Regions from separate parts of the Homo sapiens genome. Here region 1 is linked to region 2. Evidence: fine-mapped expression QTL. A gene starts in region 2. The other region holds a variant in brackets. All regions are shown on one strand. Distances are from middle to middle.

The links. PIP is the estimated chance that this variant, and not a neighbour inherited with it, causes the effect. A credible set is the group of variants that fine-mapping cannot tell apart.
Region 1: its variant is the best candidate, but not a certain one, in a credible set for the expression of IKBKE in whole blood (INTERVAL, PIP 0.74).

What each region holds. Positions count from the first base shown.
Region 1 is chr1:206,439,141-206,442,050 of GRCh38, reverse strand. SRGAP2 (SLIT-ROBO Rho GTPase activating protein 2) reads right to left here. Exons shown (of 23, transcript NM_015326.5): 17 at 1,970-2,075. Among named protein-coding and RNA genes, the nearest start is that of IKBKE, 30 kb to the left of the region's middle. The variant C/T (reference allele first, on the strand shown) is at 1,440.
Region 2 is chr1:206,468,945-206,471,854 of GRCh38, reverse strand. It overlaps IKBKE (inhibitor of nuclear factor kappa B kinase subunit epsilon), which reads right to left and starts at 1,379. Exons shown (of 22, transcript NM_014002.4): 1 at 1,157-1,379; 2 at 610-699. RefSeq lists enhancers at 2,003-2,312, 1,832-2,469.

The DNA.
Region 1 (2,910 bases), 30 kb after region 2:
TTGTATTCCTTTTAAGCAGAGACTAACCTTGTAGAAGGCTCCTCATTTTCACAAAGAAATATGTGCAAAAACACCTGGGTCCCTTGGTTTACCTTTTGTTTCCCCTACTCTGATAGATTCATGGATCCAGAGAAACATTTTTGTTCTCTATGAAAACCACAAAACAAGAGTGATGATAAATAGCAACTGAATTCAGCCTCAGGATTGGGGGACAACGGGGAGGGCTGGGGACTGTGGTGAATTGGGGAGTGCCTGCCCCATCTAGGGAGTACAGCCCTTACTCCACAGGGAATTGCTGCCACCAGGGACTGCAGAGTCAGTATCACCAGATCTAATAATTTTTCAAAAGAAGCTAGAAATCTAGGTTTTTAAAAAGTGAAATTTCCCCAAATGTAAGTATGATTTCATTGTTCTCAAGACACAATAGACACCTGAAGAGAACACATCTTCGGCTTTATCTGGCTCTCAGGGTGCCCATTTATAACCTTTGGTCTAGGCTGTTGAGGGCGAAACTGCAGCAAAACCAAAGTGAAAAGACAGAGGTGCCTCAGAGGGGAAGAATCACATGTCCTTGCTTGGTGCCTTTCCTGTCATGTGGGGACTCCAAAGCTTGCTCCACACAAGGACATGCTGCTTGGACGAGAAGAAATGCCCCATCCACACCCGCGGCCCCCTCTGCTCCTCAGACCTTTGTTGTAGACACATCCGTTCCCTGGGTGATTAGCTAAATACCACCAGTACATGGGCAACTCCTGCACTGGCAGCTCCACTCCTGGTTTCTCCCTTAAGGGTTGGATTCCTAGGTCCAATTGTTCAAAATCTCCACTTGGACATCTCACAAGTGCCTCAAATGACCATGACCACATCAACACATTGTCTTGATTCCTTTCTCCACACCTTGTCTTCTCCAACTCCATAAATGACCACCCTATGTCCCTGTCGCTCATGCCAACAATTTAGGATTTCTCTCTCCATATTCTATGTATAATCCATGGGCAAATCCTGTTAATGCTATGTTCAAAATGTATCACAAACCTGACCCCTCCTCACCGCTCTCCAGACTCAGCCACTAACACCTCTGGCCAGACCAGATGGTAACCTTGGGATAGGGTCTCCCTGTTTCTCTTCATGACCCTTTCCAGTAACTTCTCCACAAAGCAGTTGGCAGTTTTTAAAAAAATAAAATACACAAATCAGATAGTAACATGCCGGGTGCGGTGGCTCACGCCTGTAATCCCAGCACTTTGGGAGGCTGAGGTGGGCACATCACGAGGTCAAGAGATGGTGACCATCTTGGCCAACGTGGTGAAACCCCATGTCTACTAAAAATACAAAAATTAGCTGGGCGTGGTGGCATGCGCCTGGGTCCCAGCTACTCAGGAGGCTGAGGCAGGAGAATCGCTTGAACCTAGGAGGCAGAGGTTGCAGTAAGCCAAGAT[C/T]GCTCCACTGTACTCCAGCCTGGAGACAGAGCAAGACTCCGTCTCAAAAAAAAAAAAAGAAAATCTTCTAATTGCTTCCCAAATCCAAATCCAAACTCGCTATTACCATGACTCTGGGGTTTTAAATGGCCCCGTGGCACTCTTTTCTCCTCCTCTGGGCTGCTGCTTGTACACTGTCTTCTCAGGCAGGCCTCTGCTGTCCACCTCAACTACAGTGCTTCTCCCTCCTTTCATTCAGACCCCTTTACTCTTTCCCCTCTCTTTACTCTTTTTTATTTTTCTTCTAAGCACTTATTCTACCTGATATATCTGTTATTGGCTGTTTCCTTCCCTGGAACAGGAGCTAAATTATATCAAGGCTTTCATCTTTTATTTAACGATGTATTAAATAAGTCTAGCACTGTGGCTAGCACACAGTAGGTGCTCAATAAATATTTTGTTGGGATGGATGAATAGGCATAGGTCCATAGAGGAACTTCCAGTGCCCAAGCCAAAGCCTGATCCAGCTGTTCACTGGGAAGGCTACTCACTGATTGAGGAAGGCAAAGAGGTATCTCATGATAATCAGAGTGGTTTTGGGCAGGACTAGGAGGACTTTCCGGATGTGCAGAGCTCTCTCCTGCAGGTTGTCCATTGCTGAAAAGAAGAAAGCCATGTGTTATCCTCCACTATGACTGGGATCCCAGGCAGTAATGATCAGAAGTCCCTACTACCAGCAGGGGCAACACGGACAGCATCAGATCAAGCCCACGCACAGCACTGGTGCAGTGACAGGAGTGTCATCCCTGTTGCTCCTTGGAGTAGGGCTGTTAGAAGAGGGCACCTGCTGGGCTCCAGACATTTACCATTGCCGGATGTAAGGTGTATACTTCTTGGGCACAGGGAACTGTGCCAAATCCAAATCCAAACTCGTTATTACACATTATTAATATTAAACTGAACTAGGGTTGTTGTAATCTCATTGTTATTAATAACAAGTTTGGATTTGGATTTGGGCACAGGAAATGGGGTTAGAAATGTTCCCCACAGGATCTACCACCCTCTTATTCAAACAACCACTGACAGGGAGCTGCCGCCAACCTGCTGTAACTGCTCAACACAAAGCCTCAAAGGGCCTACTTCTCGGTGGGAAGAGAGGCTGTGCAAGAGGCCTGTCCTGCTCACTCCACACATGCCATCTCATCCTCTGGACAAGTGTGGCTTATCTTCTCCCTCCCTTATCTGCACTATGAATGAGTAAAAAGTGGCCTGAGGCAAGAGGTAGCAGGCCCCTGGGTATGTAGTGATATTGGGAAGGAGACCTGAAAGGTTTTCTTGTGCTGTGGAGAGGTTAATTATAGGTCAATTACAGGTCCTCCATCATAGGCAGCCTCTCACTTCCACAGTGTGCCATGTAAACACTGCCATTTTCTATGAGTGCCTTTATATGAAAAAGAGATGGGAAGTACTGGATTAGGAAGAAGAGTGTATC
Region 2 (2,910 bases):
CTCTGAACTTTTTCTCTGTGTAATCTTTTTTAAAAATGCAAATCCTTGATAATGTCATTTCATTGAGCCAGAGGCCCCTTGAAGAGATCGGTGGTCAACTCCTAGTTTCAGATCAGGTAGGAGCGGACATTACACAGAAGCAACTGAGGTACTGAGAGGCTTCCTGAAGACAACACAGTAGCTCAGCATGAATGAGTGGGTCTGGTTTTCCCCGCTGAGGCTGGAGGCAGCCAGCAGGTCTGGGGGCTGGGGCTGGGGTTGGAGCACAGCAGGCTGAAATCAAGGCCAAGGGCTCTGATACTGGGGCAAGGAACAGCTCAGGACTCTGGGATAATAGGCAGTGAGGTGCAAAGCGCAGACCCCCAGACAAGCGGTGTGCCCCTGGATTCTGTGCCCGGGAGCTCTGGTTGTGGCACATCTGGCTTAACTCTGCACGCTCTGCAGATCCTCCCCCCACCACCCCAAGCACCTGGTGCAAAGAAGGGCTCAGTGGCCCTCAGCCAGTGGTTGGATGAATGAGCAGTGGACAGTGAAGCATGTGAGACACCACCCACCCACCTCTCCCCTCCCCTCCCTCCTCAGGGCTCTGCTGTGGCCAAGTGCACTTACCCCACACTCTGAGCTGCCCTGAGTCAGGCAAAGGCTCTTCCTGGCGAGTGTATGTTATGCTTTCTGTCTGTGGCACGTCCAGGAGCTGAGCTACACCGGAAAGAGGAGGGCGGATGAGAGGCGCCCCTCAGTGCAGTTGCTTCTCAGCCTCCATCAAAGGCCGCCGGCCCTAGCCCTTTAACCCTTTCCTGTTTGTCACCTTCCCCCACAGGGCTGGGCTGGGGGTTTCCAGCTCTATTCCCAAACTGTTCAGGGAGCCTTTCCCAGCGTCTCCTACTCCTGAGACTCCGGCCAGGGAGAAAGACCCCGGGAAAGGTGAGGGCAGGCGCTGGGTGCTGATCGCTGGCTTTGGGTGTTGGTAAGCAGAGCCCAGGGAGGGCTTGTGGTTGGCCCGTGGTGGCTCACCTCCATGCCACACACAACGCTCTATGTGAGAGCACCGCTGCCAACAAGCCCACACCCCTGCACCCGGCTGAGCTGCCCTGCAGCTGCCCCTTGTCTGGCCCCTCATTCCACCCCCACCCCCCTCCGCACGCTGCACACTCACCCCATCTCCACTGCAGGGGATGCAGGCTTGTGGGACTGGGTGACACCCCCAGAGCTTTCAGGGCTCACTGTCATTCATGAGCAGTGTTCTTAGCCTCCTGGTAGCCAAGGGCCCCTAGGACCCACAGGCAGGGCCAGTTGCAATGTCTGTGCCACCCCAGGAGCTGGGACTAGTGGGTTTCTTCCCTGCCTCCTTGTGGCGGTGGGACACCAAGCTCAGCACTGAGTCCTGGCTCTCAGCTCTCTCGCACTTCCTGATTTCCGTCTCTCGCTCTCTCTTTCTCTCTTAAAGAGACAGAGGCAACTCGGTGCAGCCACCAGCTCAGCAGAAAAGAGAAAGAGGATGCTCTGAGTTCCCAAGGGTAGGCAATAGGACCAGAGTGTGAGCCACAGAGAAGCCAGGAACTGGGGCCCTTCTGGTAATCTTGATGGGCAGCTGGGTGCTGTTTTGGCATCTCCCACAGTTCACTGGAGCAGGGAAGTTCAGGGCTCTTCCCAGAGTCAACAGAGCAGGTTGGGCAAGTTAACTAAGTGGAAAGCTGCCTGGGAAGTCCATGCTCCCACACCCAGGAACCCCAAGGAAGTGTGGGAGCTATGCCGATCCAGTCCTAGAAGTTGGATCTGAGTCACCTTCCCAGGAGGCCTGCAGAGGTCCGAGAGCAAGCGCGGGGACCCAGCTGATGCCTTCCAGTGTGACCTGAGCACACAGCATGCAGCCCCTCCCAGCCAGCTCACTCACCCGCAGAGTAACAGCTACTCTGTGGGTTGATTGGATGACATGGATATATTTGGAATTGTTTGGGAGCTTGGAAAGCATTTTACAGAAAGGCATTGAAGGCATGGAGGCCCACACACTTCAGTAATTTACCCATGCTCTTCAGAGACTGCTGGGGCTGGCACCCAGGTGCCAACTTCCCAGCCAGGACTCGATGCCCCACATCAAATGTCCTAGGAGGCTGGAGGGGTCTGTCCTGCTCTGGTCAGCTCAGAGATGGCAGTTGGATATGAAATGGTTAAAACCAGGAAATTCCATGTTTCTATAGAATGTTGGAGGGACTTTCCCATGGCCACACCTGGTGGTTTCCTCCGCCAGCCCCACCCCTCCCACAGTGACACTAGAACAGGAGCAGAGCTGAGAACTGCCTAGTGCTCAGATAAAGAGAACTCCCCATAACACCTCCAGCTGGAGGAGTTGCTGCAACTTCTCACATCAGGACCAGGAGGAATGTGCCTGAGTGCCTGAGATCCTCATGTTCCACCCAGTCTTCCCAGCTTGCTTTTTTTTTTTGAGATGGAGTCTCACTCTGTCACCCAGGCTGGAGTGCAGTGGCATGATGTTAGCTCACTGCAACCTCCACCTCCTGGGTTCAAGTGATTCTTCTGCCTCAGCCTCCCAAGTATCTGGGACTACAGGCATGCACCACCATGCCCGGCTAACTTTTTGTATTTTTAGTAGAGATGGGGTTTCACTGTGTGGTTGGTGAGGTGGATTGAACAGGTTGGACTTGATCTCCCAACCTCCTGATCCACCTGCCTCAGCCTCCCAAAGTGCCGGGATTACAGGCGTGAGCCAGTGGCTAATTTTTTGTATTTTTAGTAGAGATGGGGTTTCACTGTGTGGTTGGTGAGGTGGATTGAGCAGGTTGGTCTAGATCTCCCAACCTCCTGATCCACCTGCCTCAGTCTCCCAAAGTGCCGGGATTACAGGCGTGAGCCACTGCACCCAGCCTAGTCTTCCCAGGTTTCTGCCTGCCT